Linked DNA regions of Homo sapiens: region 1 is linked to region 2. A link means that fine-mapping ties the variant in region 2 to the expression of a gene that starts in the linked region. Tissue or cell type: whole blood. Region 2 holds a variant in brackets; the other region holds the start of a gene. All regions are shown on one strand. Distances are from middle to middle.

What was found. PIP is the estimated chance that this variant, and not a neighbour inherited with it, causes the effect.
Region 1: RAPGEFL1 starts here. The variant in region 2 is fine-mapped to the expression of RAPGEFL1 in whole blood (INTERVAL, PIP above 0.99).

Annotation. Positions count from the first base shown.
Region 1 is chr17:40,174,279-40,182,378 of GRCh38, reverse strand. RAPGEFL1 (Rap guanine nucleotide exchange factor like 1) reads right to left here and starts at 4,909. Exons shown (of 15, transcript NM_016339.6): 1 at 3,998-4,909; 2 at 685-763. The coding sequence starts at 4,517. RefSeq lists enhancers at 2,926-3,780, 3,781-4,637, 5,029-5,529, 5,530-6,030 and a silencer at 4,868-4,997.
Region 2 is chr17:40,213,765-40,221,864 of GRCh38, reverse strand. WIPF2 (WAS/WASL interacting protein family member 2) reads right to left here and starts at 2,561. Exons shown (of 8, transcript NM_133264.5): 1 at 2,373-2,561. RefSeq lists enhancers at 1,942-2,720, 2,621-2,730, 3,171-3,220. The variant A/C (reference allele first, on the strand shown) is at 3,510.

The DNA.
Region 1 (8,100 bases), 39 kb after region 2:
GGTCGCACCACTGTACTCCAGCCTGGGTGACAGAGCAAGACTCCATCTCAAAATAAATAAATAAATAACACCTTTCATTTGTACAGGGCTCTGCAGCCTCCAAAGCACTCCCACATCTGCTATCAGACTGATCTTCATAGCAGCTAATAGATAGGCAGGGCAGGTGCTATTTACCTCCATTTTACAGAAAAGGAAACTGAGTCCCCATGAGGTTAGGTAATCTGTACAAGTCACACAGCTGATGAGTAGAAAAGCTGGGACTGAAACCCAGGTATGTTTTCTTTTCTTTTTTTTTTGAGATGGAGTCTCACTCTGTCACTCAGGCTGGAGTGTAGTGACGCGATCTCGGCTCACTGCAACCTTTGCCTCCCGGGTTCAAGTGATTCTCCTGCCTCAGCCTCCCAAGTAGCTGAGATTACAGGTGCGTGGCACCATGCCTGGCTAATTTTTTCTATTTTTAGTAGAGATGGTGTTTCACTATGTTAGCCTGGCTGGTCTTGATCTCCTGACCTCAGGTGATCCGCCTGCCTCAGCCTCCCAAAGTGCTGGGATTACAGGTGTGAGCCACTGCACTCGGCCCCAGGTATGTTTCCTAGGGGAGAGTTTAGGCTCTGAGATTGCATGTGGGACGGAGGGAGTGGCTCCCTTCTGACCTCTCCTTTTCCAAACTCCACAAAAGGATATTACTGGTGTAGCTCCTGCAGAAATTTCTCCGTCGGGAGGAAGAGAGAATGGGTAAGGACAATGTCATCCAGCAGGATATCTGTAAAGATCAGTGGGCACCACAGATGTCAGGTGGGCACTTCCAGAACGAAACTGGAAATGCAGTGCCTCCCTCTCTTGCCCCTAAGGGCAAGTTCTCTTTAGCCAGGCTGGAGCCCCAGCCACCTGCCTTGTCATGCTCTGCACACGCGCACACATACATGTGTAAAGGTTCTGGGCAGCCACTGCGAGGGTGGGTTCGGCAGCTGCCAAGGCAGCTGAAGGGAAGGGGGGGGCGCGTGCCTTTGATGGCCATGTGCACTTCTCTTCAGCGTATGTGGGAAGTTGGTCAGATAACACACCAAGGTTGAGTTCTGCCTGAAAAAAGAAGTAGCCCACAGAAGTGTCTCCAGACAAAGAGTATTTCCAAACACAGAGGTTAGCATCAGTGGGGACTGTGTGTGTGCATGTGTGTGTATCCCTCTTCCCCTCCCCATTTCCCACCTAACAGCTTTGAGTTCTAACTAGGCAGGTGGGAACCAGCCTGATTAAAAGGGAGATGGAGAGACTGCCATCACTTTGATCCCAGAACCTTTAAATAGAAATCCTGTGTCCTTTAGGGGCCCAGAGACAGAAGGGTTAATGATGGAATGGTGAAGGGGAGCGGCTCCTCTCACCACCCCTTTCCCCTCCACACCCCCGTCTGGGCCTGGCTCAGCCAGTCAGCCGGGTACAAGGTCGCCCTGACTTGCAGCCAGCCCTGGGGTGGGGCAGGGCCACCTGGCACACACAGACAGACAAGGTGCAGGGAGGGAGCCAGGTGTCCTCACCAGGACTGGTTAGGGCCAGGTCCCCAGGCACTGTCCCAGGACAAAACCAAGGCTTCTGACTCCCCTTGGTTCACTATCTCCTGTGGTCAGTTCTAGCCATGCAGGCGGAGGAGGAAAACCAACACAAAGTAATTGACTTCAAGGATTTCATTTCGCAAATGTGAAACTGAGGCCCAGAGCTGGGAGGGACTTGCCTGGAGCTGGAATAAGAACCCAGAATCCTGAGTCTTTGTCCTTTTCTCAATATGCCTGAGGCAAGCAGAGTGTTAGGGTAAAACCTAGCGGTCAGAGGGGGCTGCTTGGACGTTGGAGAGGCTTTGGTAGGTTCAGAGTAACTTCTGTAAGTTCTCTCCTCCCACACACCCTGGGAGGAGACCAGGATGACTTGAGAACATTGGTTTTATTGGAGAACATCAGAGTGGCAGGTTAAGCTGATTCTCATTCACCTGGGACTGGTTTGGAATTTCCCAAACTAGTTACTCTGGGGATCCAGGCTGCCAGATAACATGGGTGACATTTCAGGAGTCTTACCCCAGGGGAGAATGAGCGGAGCGTGTGGCACCAGGCCCCTGTAAAAGGGGAAAGACAGCTTCTCCCTTTTCCTCCCTGCCCAGCTACCCTGCTGTGTTCTTACAATGAGTCAGAGAGCCTCCAGCTCTGACCCCCAGCTTCAGGGATGAGGGTGAGGAAACGAGAGGCCTGACATCCTTCATAGACTTTATCTCACAGGATTCCTAAGCTGGAGCAAAGGAAGAGTAAGATGGGGCAGAGTTGGGGAGATGCTGATATGGGGGCCACAGTTGGGCATCTGTCTTTTCCAAAGCAGGCTCTGGGCCAATGTACAGCCTCCCTAGGGAATGTGTCATAGAGACACAGGGTGTGTGGTGTAGGCGGGAAGTTATGGTTAGGAGAGCTGTGTGTGTCTGATATTTTTCTAATTAAATCCAAAAGGTGTCAGCTCCCCAGGGCAACTACAGCCTGCTCCAAAGGAGAGGACCCAGGTCTTGAGAAGGATCTAGGAGAGTGGAGCCCCCCTCCACACATCTAGGTTGGGGTTCCCTGCCGAGGGCTGAGAGCAAGTGTGAAAGCCCTCACCATTAGGGCCTCAGCCGGGGCTCCCAAACCTCAGACCCTCCTGGGCTTAGAGTAATGCCTAGAGCTAGACCTAAAGAACCCTCGGTCTTCTACCTCAGAACTAACCAGATTTGGGGCCTTGGTTTCCTCAAAGGCCCCTTAGTAGGGGTGCTGAAAGGGAGTGGTGAAATAGTATCATCATTTAGGGAATAAGCTTCTCAGGGTGTGGTGATTATATTTTAAAGAGGCCGTGTGCCAGGTCCGGTGGCTCACGCCTGTAATCCCAGCACTTTGGGAGGCCGTGGGGTGGGGGTGGGGGGAGGTAGATAACGAGGTCAGGAGTTCAAGACCAGCCTGACCAAGTTGGTGAAACCCCGAAACCCCGTCTCTACTAAAACTACAAAAATTAGCCAGGCCAGTGGCTCACGCCTGTAATCCCAGCACTTTGGGAGGCCAAGGCAGGTGGATCACGAGGTCAGGAGTTCGAGACCATCCTGGCTAACACGGTGAAACCCCTGTCTCTACTAAAAATACAAAAATTAGCCAGGCGTGGTGCCACATGCCTGTAGTCCCAGCTACTCAGGAGGCTGAGGCAGGAGAATCGCTTGAACCTGGGCGGTGGAGGTTGCAGTGAGCTGAGATGGCGCCACTGCACTCCAGCCTGGGTGACAGTGAGACTACATCTCCAAAAGAAAAAAAAAAAAAAGCCGGGTGCTGAGGCCTGCCACCGAAGGGTGGAAGCTGGAGGCGCTTGGACACCCTGGATGCTGCAGGGCCATGATGCCGGCCCAGCCACCTCTCCCCTCCCAGACACCTTCTGAGTCCAGCCCAAGGAGAATACTATCCCCCCCACCAAACTGCTAAGGACAACGCATCCCTTTGCTGATGCCTAAAAGGCAGCTTGGGGCCTGTGCCTGTCTGGCACTGCCTCCCTGGGTGGGTCAGCCTGCGCTGTGTAGGCCTCTGAACAGTCAGGGACCCCAGGGTTTTCAGGGCTAAAGCACCTCTGGCGGGTGGCATGGCTGCGCTGGGCAGCTCCCATTTTAATGTGTCAGGCCCTAATTTGGGGCCACAGGAGGAGGTATTCAACATCAGGGACCCATGGGAGTCAGTGGCTCCAATGCCCAGGGGAAAGGAAGGGTGGCTGAAGGAGAGTAAGAGGCTCAGCTGCTTCTCCAGACGAGGGTGAGGCTGCTGTAGGGAGGAAGGTGAGTACTGCTCTCCTCTTCCGCGGGAGGGTCTGTACCTCCGCTAGGCCCCTAGCCGGCTTCCGCGGACCACTCAACCCTATAACCAAGCCCCGGCACGGCGCCACCCCTACGCTCCAAGGGCAAGGAAGAGGAGCCGGGGCCAGCCCCTGCTCTGGGTGTTCGAGCCCACCGGCTCCTTACCTGAGGCGGCGCTGTCCCTGGTAGCCCCTCCAGCAAGCCGCTCCAGAACCCGGTTCAGAAGATGCTCGGGCCGCTCGGGGGCGCCCAGAGGGGCCCAGGGCGGCGAAGTCAAGGGCTCGCCTGGGGACAGCTCGTCAGATGAGTAGGAGGAAGGGGAGCGCAGGGGCCCCCCTCCCCCGAGAGGCCCGGGCCCCGGCACCTCCTCCAGCTGCAGCCAGCAGGGCCCCCCGCTGCCCGGCTCCTCCGCGACCCCCGCCGGCTCTCCTCCTTCCTCCTCAGGGGGCGGCTCCAGCCCCGGCTCGGCGGGGGGCTCCCGGAGGAAAGCGGGGAGCAGCAGGCGAGACACGCTCTGACGCCGCTGCAACGACCGCTGTCCCCCGGCTGGACCGCCGCCCCCGCCGGGTCCCCCACCCCCTCCAGGCCCACCGCAGCTCCCCAGACCCCCGCCGGGACCTCCCGCCACCGTTCGGCCCGCCAGCTGCGACGTCTGCTTCTTCAGAAATTTCTCCAGCGGCTTCATGCCCCCCCCCGCCCCTCTCCTAGGGGTCGCCGGGGGACCCAGGTATCCCAGGCGCGGGCGGGGGGGGCGGCGAAGACACGATGCTCAGAGCTGGAGGAGCAGAGTAGAGGGCCGTGCCAGGCGCCAGACTGGGGGCCAGAGGGGCCGAGCCTCGCTGGCCAGAGTCCAGTGGCCAGTAGCCGGGGGAGGTGCCAGAGGAAAGGAGTGCTCGCTCTCAGCAACCCCCCATGCCGGCTGCAGCCGGCACGCGGCCCGAAGAGTGGGCAGGCTGCGGGGCCGGTGCGCCCGGCTCTGCGCTGCGGCGGCAGAGGCAGCGGGCGGAGCGCAAGGCTGAGAGGACGCGGCGGCGGCGGCGGCGGCGGCTGCGCTCCTGGCCGTGAAGAGGGGGAAGGTGGCAGAACCGAGACCGCGCCCCCTCCTCCAGTCCCCGCCCAGTCCCCGCCCCTACCCTTCCTCGGCTCGCCCCCGCGCCGCACGAGGCTTGAACTCGCGCGCTGGGGTTGACCGCGAGGGAAACAGTAAGGGACTTGGGTTCTAAGCAGAAGAAATTAAGGGCAAAGGTAAGTCAGAGATTTACCAATGGGGAAGGATTCCTGGCTCAAGGGATAACCGGGTCTCAGCATCATTTCAAAGAGTCAGGACAGGTCTGTGGCCTGGACACCTTCACTCACCTACCTGTGTACCCAAGTCAGGCCTACAGATTGCTGAACCCAAGAGTGTGCACCTTTCTCATACTCACAGAAATATGTGGAGTTTATCTTCCTTCTGTGAGAAGAGCTGGGAAGGCCTCTTGGGTGAATTAGCATTGCCACTGGAGGCGGTGCCCATCTGTCCTCTCTGGTAGGGCACAATAGGTGGTGTGGGCCTGGTCTGTGGGCAGGTACTGGCAGGCAGGTAGGAGCCAGGCAGGGAGCAGCAGGTTGTGGCAGGTCTAGCTGGGGTGAGGAGGGGATAATAGGCAGTGGGGAGGAGACCAGGAGCACAAGGGCACCTGAGCCCAGCTGGCAGCAGAAGGAAGCAGGGCCATGGAGACAGGTGACAAGCCCCAGAACTGCCGACTATCATCAAGCACAGAGCCCAAGTGTACATGGCCATGGAGTGGGAAAAGTGGTGCCAATTAGCACTCCAAGTAATCCTTACTCCTGATGCCCACACCAGGAGCATTCTGTCCTTAAGGATATGCTGCCCCAGAAGGAGTGTGGGGGAGGAGGGGGGTGCATCGTAAAGCCATGCTAAGTGTGAGAACATCCAGGTTAGACTTACAAGGTGTGGGAGTGGCAGCAGGTTCTCGATGGGTTGAGGCTCTCTGGACAATGCCCCACCCCTGTTTACCGAGCACCAACCAGGCAGAGACAGGAATGCTAATGGCTGGGAGTGGTAGTAAAACTGAACAGGGTGTGTATGACATACGTATCAATGTATGTGCATATCTGTTCCCATGTGTGCTAGAGCATGTGTTCACAGAAATAAAGCTTTGCACACCCATCTGTTTGTGGATTTGGAAACAGTAAAAAGAAGACAGCGCACAATTTTGGCTAAGAAGCTGTATTAGAGGTCTGAGTATCAGCTTCCTGTGCTCCCCTTATTGGACACTCCAATATCCCCTGGCTTGAAAGGGGAAAGTGGCTGGAATGGGTTGGAGCTCCCCAGGTAGCATTTTATGAACTGAATAGGAAGAGGGAAGGGCTTCTCTCCCAGCACATGCCACAGTTACCAGATTAAGCCGGTTGCCTTGGTAACCTTCTCTCTGGGCAGGATTTGGGAATTGTTGGTTAGGAAGGGCGAATTGGGGAGTGTGAAGGGTGTAGGGGGTTGAAAATAAAACAGACTGAGAGACTTCTGGAAGCTAGAAGCTTGGGACACAGGACCCCAGTACTCCCCCAAATGCTCAAGGATGTCAGGCAGAGACTAAGTTCAACATTTTGAATCAGTGAGGAGAGCCAGCATCAAGTCATGGTCCTCCTGGAGTGGCAGTGGTTTTCACCCTGACTACACACTGGAATCACAGGGAAGCTTCTCAGAAATACTGATGCTGGCTGGGCTTGGTGGCTCACGCCTGTAATCTCAACACTTTGGGAAGCCAAGGCGGGCAGATCACTTGAGGTCATGAGTTCAAGACCAGCCTGACCAACATGGTGAAACCCCACTTCTAAAAATACAAAAAAAATTAGCCGGGCATGGTGGCACACACCTGTAATCCAAGCTACTTTGGAGGCTGAGGTAGAAGGATTGCTTGAACCTGGGAGGTGAAGGTTGCAGTGAGCTGTTATCATGCCACTGCACTCCAGCCTGGGTGAGAGACTCCATATTAAAAAAAAAAAAAAAATACTGGCCAAGTGCAACAGCTCACGCCTATAATCCCGGTACTTTGGGAGGCCGAGAAGGGTGCAACATGAGGTCAGAAGTTCGAGACCAGTCTGGCCAACATAGTGAAACCCTGTCTCTACTAAAAATACAAACATTTGCTGGGCATGGTGGCTGGTGCCTGTAATCTCAGCTACTCAGGAGGCTGAGGCAGGAGAATCGCTTGAACCCGGGAGGTGGAGGCTGCAGTGAGCCGAGATCATGCCACTGCACTCCAGCCTGGGCAACAAGAGCAAGACTGTCTCAAAAAAAAAAAAAACAAACAAACAAAAAAAAAACTGATGCCTAGGCCATATCTCAGACCAATTAAATCAGATTTCTGAACCAGGGCGAAGGCTTATGGTATTTTTTAAAAAGCTCCTCACATGACACAAATGGCCAGGATTGAAAATCACTGCCCTAGACGGACAGTCAACCCAAGTGGGCTGCAGATGCTGGGAGCTGACTTTGGAATTCCAAGTCTTTGGTGCTCCGAGTTGCCTACAAGGTAGCAGGTCTGTGCGCTGACCCTGAAGGGGAAGAGAGCTGGCAGAGCATTTGCACCCGCTTATGGAAGAAATAAAGAGGAAGGCAGGGTGGTATGAATAACAACTATGAGATGGGGGCGAAAAAGCTTTGAGCTTTTTTTGAGCCCATGGGCTTCTACAAGGGGACTGGGCAGGGCCACCTCAGGCTATCTGTCTGCTGCTTACACACCCTCTTCTTTCTGCCCACCCAGAGGCAGGCTGGGAGGATAGAGAGAACCTGGGGGCTTTGCTGAGCTTGAGTTTCTTCTTGCAGAGCTGGTTACCAGGGCAACAGAGAGAGCAATAGGGTCTAACTGAAGGACTAGGGAAGCAAGAGGCAAGGGTAAAGGGGAAGCATCCAACACTCAAACCTCCTGCCAGTAACCCACCCCCAAGGCTGGATGGCATTTTTTCATAACCCCAGGAGATCAGGCCTACAGTCACCCATCACATTGTGGGGAAGAGAAGCAAACTGACATGATTTAAAGAGGAATTAGGGGCCCAGCGTGGTGGCTCACGCCTGTAATCCCAGAACTTTGGGAGGCCAAGCTGAGCCAATCACCTGAGGCCAGGAATTTGAGACCAGCCTGGCCAACATGGTGAAACCCCATCTCTACTAAAAATACAGAAAAAAAGTAGTGGGGCATGGTGGCGGGCGCCTGTAAACCCCAGCTACTTGGGAGGCTGAGGCAGGAGAATCGCTTAAACCCGGG
Region 2 (8,100 bases):
TCATGCCTGTAATCTCAACACTTTGGGAGGCCGAGGTGGGTGGATCACCTGAAGTCAGGAGTTCGAGACCAGCCTGACCAACATGGTGAAACCCCATCTCTACTAAAATACAAAAAATTAGCTGGGCGTGGTGGTGCATGCCTATAGTACCAGTTACTTGGGGGACTGAGGCAGGAGAAGCGCTTGAATCCGGCAGGCAGAGGTTGCAGTGAGCCGAGATCACGCCACTGCACTCCAGCCTGGGTGAAAGAGCGAGACTCCGTCTTAAACAAACAAACAAAAAAAGAGACAGAGAGAGAGATGGGGTATTGCTACGTTGCCCAGAATGGTCTCGAACTCTTAGACTCAAGCAATCCTCCTGCCTCAGCCTCCCAAGTAGCTGGGATTACAGGCAGGTGCACCATTGTATGTCTTTTAAATATCAATATCTCAATCTCATTTTCAGAGATCACTTCTATGCAACCACTTTAAAGATCCCATGTGTTAAGACAAACTTTTAGAGGCAGGGACAGAGAAAACCTATATTTCAAAGGGGAAAAAAATGAGAGCTTAATAATTTGCCTTGAAGTTATTTACTAAATCCATAGGTAGGCTAAAACTGTCCTTATTCCCTGTGGTTCTCTTCTGATTTGTAAAAGGAGAACAGAATAGCCAAAAACATTCAGTAAGACAGTCAAAAACCAAAACCGTAAGGCAAAAATAACAGCATGAAAAAGGACGGGGACCCTGGGAGAGCCCAAAGCAATAACAGATTATTCAAGTCCTTTAAAAAATATGAATTCTGGACAGGCGCAGGGGCTCACGCCTCTAATCCCAGAACTCTGGGAGGCAGAGGCGGGCGGATCACGAGGTCAGGAGATCCAGACCATCCATCCTGGCTAACACAGTGAAACCCCGTCTCTACTAAAAATTCAAAAAAAAATTAGCCAGGTGTGGTGGTGGGCACCTATAGTCCCAGCTACTCGGGAGGCTGAGGCAGAAGAATGGGCGTGAACCCGGGAGGCGGAGCTTGCAGTGAGCCGAGATCGCACCGCTACACTCCAGCCTAGGCCACTGAGCGAGACTCCATCTCAAAAAAAAAAAAAAAACGAATTCTGGGCCAGGCACAGTGGCTCATCCCTGTAATCCCAGCACTTGCGGAGGCCGAGACAGGAGGATCACTTGAGCCCAGGAATTCCAGACTAGCCTGGACAACAGGGCAAGACTCTGTCTCCAACAACAACAACAAAAAAATATATATATATACATATATATATATATATATATATATATATATATATATATATATATACACACACACACGTTAGGCGGGAGTAGTGGTCACACCTGTGGTCCCAGCTATTGGCGGGGCTTAGGTGGAAGGACCACTTCAGCCCGGGAGGTCGAGGCTTTAAGGAGCCATGATCATGCCACTGCACTCCAGCCCGGGCGACAGAGTGAGACCACGTCTCTTAAAAGAAAAAAAAAGAAAAAAGAATTCCATCACATATCAGTTCCTTGCCTCAATGCTATTTTTAAGAACTTTCCTTCCTGATAAAAAACTCGACCATACACACTGCCATGCTGAACACTTTAACATTTCCATCTTGGCCGGGTGCAGTGGCTCACACCTGTAATCCCAGCACTCTGGGAGTCCAAGGTGGGAAGATCGCTTGAGCCCAGGAGTTCAAGACTAGTCTGAGCAACATAGCCAGACCCCACCTTTAAAACAAAAAAAAAAAAATTCCATCTTCCCTCACTTCACACCACTTCAACATGAACCCTCAACTCCAGACGTTCCAATGCGCATCTTAACATTCTCAATCCAACCTTTAACTAAATTCTGATTCCTTTTCAAAGAACGCTCTCAAGATTCCCTCTAGTGTAAGCAGTTTCCCGAGCCATCTTCCCAAACACTAGCTTTCACCTAACTCAATCCCCAAAATGTCACACTGGACTCCTCACCCACAGCATCCTGCTAATTAGCCGTTCCCAACAGGTCCTCCGTTCCCGTCTCCCTTTTTGCGCACGATTACCTCGTTCCTCACAGAGTTGCCGCCTTAACTCACCCAACCCTTCAGGAGCCCTTATTGCCTGTCTCTCAAAAACGTTCCTCCCCATTTTTCCAGTCCCCGCTCGCCCCATACCAATATTCGACCACTCCTCCCCAGATTCCCCACGCCCTCTCTCCTCCAGGTTCTTCCGATACAGTCCCCCGGCCCCCCGCCCCTCAGGCCCCACCCGCAAGACCCCTCTCCCCCTCCGGCCCCTCCTCTAATGCCCCCCTCTCTTCTCAAGCCCCGCCCCGAGCCCCCCTCCCCGCGACTTTCCCTCCCACTCAGGTCCGCAGGTCATTTCAGCGACTGACCCAGCCGCCCCGGCCTCTTTCCGACCTGGCCGCAGCTGCTCTGGGAGCGAATCCTCTGCCGCCTACACTCCGGCTTCGTCCTGTCCTGCTCGCCCCCCGGCAAGCTCTTTCTCGCCGTCGCCGCCGCCGCCGCCGCCGCCGCCGCCGCCACCGCCCCTTTTGCCAACCCGGAAATGGATCTGCTCCCACCGTCCCCAGCGTCCGCGAACAAAATGGAGGCGGGGGAAAAAGGAGGAGAGAGCAGGGAGCGGAGAGATGCGAGACGCATGCGCCCCTGGGAAGCCCGCCCCCTGCCGGCCCACGTAAAGGCGGAAGCGGTTGAGTGGACGCCATCTTAGGAAGGTCACAGGAATTCCGCTTACCAGCTAAAAGCTGGGTTTGCAACTTTAGCTGCAATTGGAATCACCTGGCAAGATTTAAATACTATGATGCCTGGTTCCCACCCCTGGAAATTATAATTTAATTCTGGGGTGCAGCCTAGGCATCAGGAAATTGTTGCAGGTGATTCTAACGTGTTGCCAAGGTGGAGAACCACTGAGCTAAACAGTCATTGTTGAATATACTCCTTTCGTCTTTAATCCGCCGCACACACACACACCCTCCCCCCTAAATATCCTTCCTTAATCTCGAGTTAACGAAGAACCCGCCTCGGCCAACCTTGCAAAGGCCAAGTAGTCAAGCTCCGGTTGTCATGGCAACAGAGGCAGGCCACTGCTCACAAGTCATCATTTACGTCATCTTACCCACCTGACTCGAACACCGTCTCTTCTTTCTCGGGCTGGGGTTTCCTCCAGCTTCCAGGGCTATAGGATGGTGCTGTGGACCCCTCCAGCTGCTTGGGCCAGAGAGAGAAATCCTGTGCCCTCTTTGATGGAGCTGCTGTTAAACCCTGACAGCTGACTAAGTATCTCTCCCTAGTCCACCCAGAAAAGCGCTTTCCATTATAGCTTCAAAATACTCTTGGTTTAATTCCATTCCCAGCACAGAATCCGAAGTAAGGGGGCAAGATTGGGACTTAGTCCCCATTACTTACAAGCTGTGTGCCATTGGGCCTTAGCTACCCTATCTGTAAAATGGGTCTAATAGTGCCTGTCCCGTCTGTCTCATAGAGTTGTTGCAAAGCTGAAATCAGTTAATGAATGGGAAAACGTGATAGAGCATA[A/C]GTTGTTATTATTTTTGTTTTCCTTCTATTCTGCCATGAGTAGTACTAGGCACCACCCACTAGTCAAGTAAATGTCACATTGAGTACCTGCTAAACACCAGGAGATGGCTACAGAGGTGACTAAGACAGAGCCTCTGCCCTCAGGGAACTCACTACGTTGGTGGGCAGACTGGCATAAACAGCTAGCTGAGATACAAGTCAGCGTGTGATTAGTGCTGTGGGACGTCAGACAAGGGAGCAATTAATTCCTGCTAAAGAATGGAAGGAGGTTTCCTAAATGGTTTGGAGCTGGGCCTTGAAGGATGAATGGAATTTTATTATTAATCAGAGAAGGCAGGGAACACAGCAGGCATAGGGATCAAGGACACGAGGTAAAGATTTTCAGCTGTCTACATCCTGCATGGCCATACGTGGGGCGATGGAGCCAGGGAGATGGTGGGTCCAAACACCTTACCAGAGCCTCCCAACTCTTCAACCTCATCCCCTGCCTGTCCCCTCCTCACTCACTCTACATTATGAGGACCTGATTTCTATCACTGCAATGTACCCCATTCAGCAGTTCCCACCTCAGGGACTGTGTACTGGCTATCCTCCGCCTCTTCCTCATTTTTCAAGCCTTACTGCAAATGCTTCGTCCTCAGAGGGCATTCACTGCCCACTGTAGCTAATGTAAAGCCCCATGCTCTATCACACACTCTGTGATAAGGGCAGCCGCTGGGATGAATATAGGGACATCTCACCCAGACTTGGGGAAATAGTGATATAGGCTTCATGAAAAAGGTAAATGGCCCAAGTGCAGTGGCTCATGCCTGTAATCCCAGCACTTTGGGAGGCTGACAGGGGGGATCGCTTGAGCCCAGAAGTTCAAGACCAGCCTGGGAAACATGGTGAAATCTTGTTACTACAAAAATTACCCGGATATAACCGGGCACGGTGGCTCACGCCCGTAATCCCAGCACTTTGGGAGGCCAAGGCGGGCAGATCACCTGAGGTGGGGAGTTCGAGACCAACCTGACCAACATGGTGAAACCCCGTCTCTACTACAAATACAAAATTAGCCAGGTGTGTTGGCACATGCCTGTAATCCCAGCTACTTGGGATGCTGAGGCAGGAGAATCGCTTGAACCCAGGAGGCGGAGGTAGCGGTGAGCTGAGATCACTCCATTGCACTCTAGCCTGGGCAACGAGAGTGAGACTCTGTCTCAAAAAAAAAAAAAAAAATTAGCTGGACACGGTGGTGTGAGCCTGTGGTTCCAGCTACTTGGGAGGCTGATATGGGAGGATCACTTAAGCCCAGGAGATCAAGGCTGGGCTGAGCCATGATTGGCCACTGCACTCCAGCCCGAGCAATAGAGTGAAACCCTGTCTAAAGGAAGAAAAAAGAAAGTAACTAAGTGAGGCCATACCCATATTCTAAGTGAGACTTGAGGGACAGGTAGGAATTGACCAGGGAAGAAGTGAAGGAAAAGCATTGTAGGGAGAGTTTGGGCAAAGCAAGAAGAATCATGGCACATTCCAATAACTGAACGCACTTTTTTTTTTTTTTAAGAGACAGGGTCTTTTAAAGACATGCTGCAGTGCAGTGGCACAGTAATGGCTCACTGCAGTCTTTTTTTTTTTTTTTTTTGGAGACAGAGTCTCGCTCTGACGCACAGGCTAGAGTGCAGTGGCGCAATCTCGGCTCACTGCAAGCTCCGCCTCCTGGGTTCACACCATTCTCCTGCCTCAGCCTCCCGAGTAGCTGGGACTACAGGCACCTGCCACCATGCCTGGCTAATTTTTTTTTTTTTTTTGTAGTTTTAGTAAAGACGAGGTTTCACCATGTTACCCAGGATGGGCTCGATCTCCTGACCTCATGATCCGCCCGCCTCGGCCTCCTGAAGTGCTGGGATTACAGGTATGAGCCACTGCGCCTGGCCTGCAGTCTTTTTATTTTTTCTATTTTTTGAAAATGAGTCTCACTCTATTGCTCAGGCTGGAGTGCAGTGGTGTGATCTCAGCTCAATGCAACCTCCATCTCCTGGCTTCAAGCGATTCTCCTGCCTCAGCCTCCCGAGTAGCTGGGACTACAGGCACCAGCCACCATGCCTGTCTAATTTTTGTATTTTTTTTTTTTTGAGACAGAGTTTCTCTCTTGTTGCCCAGGCTGGAGTGCAATGGCGCAATCTCAGCTCGCCTCCCGGGTTCAAGCGATTCTCCTGCCTCAGCCTCCCGAGTAGCTGGGATTACAGGCGCCTGCCAACACGCCCGGCTAATTTTTTGTATTTTTAGTAGAGATGGGGTTTCACCATGTAGGCAAGGTTGGTCTCAAACTCCAGACCTCAGGTGATCCACCTGCCTTGGCCTTCCAAAGTGCTGGGATTAGAGTTGTGAGCCACTGCGCCTGGCCCTAATTTTTGTGTTTTTAGTAGAGATGGGGTTTCACCAAGTTGGCCAGGCTGGTCTCAAACTCCTGATCTCAGATAATCCATCCACCTTGGTCTCCCAAAGTGCTGGGATTATGGGCGTGAGCCACCACACCTGGCCTGTAGTCTTGAACTTCTGGGCTCAAGTGGTCCTTCTGCCTCAGCCTCCTATTTGGGACTGCAGGCACTGGTGACCACATGCAGCTAATTTTTACATTTTTTTTCTTTTTCTTTCTTTCTTTTTTTTTTGAGAAGGAATCTCGCTCTGTCCCCCAGGCTGGAGTGCAGTGGTGCAATCTCGGCTCACTGCAAGCTCCGCCTCCAGGGTTCATGCCATTCTCCTGCCTCAGCCTCCCAAGTAGCTGGGACTACAAGCGCCCGCCACCACGCCCAGCTAATTTTTTGTATTTTCAGTAGAGATGAGGTTTCACCGTGTTAGCCAGGATGGTCTCGATCTCCTGACCTCGTGATCCACCTGCCTAGGCCTCCCAAAGTGCTAGAATTACAGGCGTGAGCCACGGTGCCCGGCCAATTTTTTTCTTTTCACAGACACAGCATCTCCCTTTGTTGCCCAGGTGGTGTGGAACTCCTGGCCTCAAGTGATCCTCCTACTTCGGCCTCCCAAAGTGCTGGGATTACAGGTGTGAGCCACCTCACCTGGTTCAGAAAATATATTGATATAGAGTTAGAACTTCTGGGGGAGGCAAGAAATTAGGTTACAGAAGTCATCATAAGTTTGACATTTAGTAACACTTACCATGTGCCAGGCACTGTCAAAACCTCACATAGCTCATTTAATCCTCTCAATAACTTTCTGAGGCAGATATTTTTAAGCCCATTTTACAGATGAAGAAACAGACACAGCAAGGTTAATCATCTTGCTCAAAGTCACATATCTATAAGTAGCGAAAGTAAAAGTATCTCCAGAGTCTGTGTTTTTTGTTTGTTTGTTTCAGACAGTCTTGCTGTGTTGCCCAGGCTGAAGTGCAATGGCGCGATCTCGGCTCACTGCAACCTCTGCCTCCCGGGTTCAAGCAATTCTTCTGCTTCAGCCTCCCGAGTAGCTGGGATTGCAGGCACATGCCAGCACGCCCGGCTAGTTTTTGTATTTTTAGTAGAAATGAGGTTTCATCATATTTGCCAGGCTGGTCTTGAATTCCTGACCTCAAGTGATCCACCTGCCTTGGCCTCCCAAAGTGCTGGGATTACAGGTGTAAGCCACCACACCTGGCCCTTTGTTTTTTTGTTTGTTTGTTTGTTTGTTTTGAGATGGAGTCTCGCTCTCTCGCCCAGGCTGGAGTGCAGTGGCGAGATCTCGGCTCACTGCAAGTTCCACCTCCCAGGCTCACACCATTCTCCTGCCTCAGCCTCCTGAGTAGCTGGGACTACAGGAGCCCACCACCACACCTGGCTAATTTTTTTTTTTTGTATTTTTGGTAGAGACGGGGTTTCACCATGTTAGCCAGGATGGTCTCAATCTCCTGACCTCGTGATCCGCCCGCCTCGGCCTCCCAAAGTGCTGGGATTACAGGCGTGAGCCACTGCGCCCGGCATTTTTTTTTTTTTTTTTTGAGACAGAGTTTCACTCTTGTTGCCCAGGCTAGAGTGCAATGGCGAGATCTCGGCTCACCGCAACCTCCACCTCCTGGGTTCAAACTATTCTGCTGCCTCAGCCTCCCTAGTAGCTGGGATTACAGGCATGTGCCACCATGCCCAGCTAATTTTGTATTTTTAGTAGAGACGGGGTTTATCCATGTTGGTCAGGCTGGTCTTGAACTCCTGACCTCAGGTGATCCGCCAGCCTTGGCCTCCCAAAGTGCTGGAATTAGAGGAATGTGCTACTGCGCCCAACCCCTTTTTTTTTTTTCGAGACACATCTTGCCCTGTCGCCCAGGCTGGAGAGCAGTGGCATGATTTCAGCTCACTGCAAACTCCACCTCCTGGGTTCAAGCAATTCTCCTGCATCAGCCTCCTGAGTACCTGGAATTACAGGCGTGCTCCACCACACCTGGCTAATTTTTGTATTTTTTAGTAGAGAAGGGGTTTCACTATGTTGGCCAGGCTGGTCTGGAACTCCTGACCTTGTGATCCACCCTCCTCGGACTCCCAAAGTGCTGGGATTACAGGCGTGAGCCACCGCACCCCGCTGAGCCTGTGTGTGTGGTTTTTTTTTGTTTTTTGTTTTT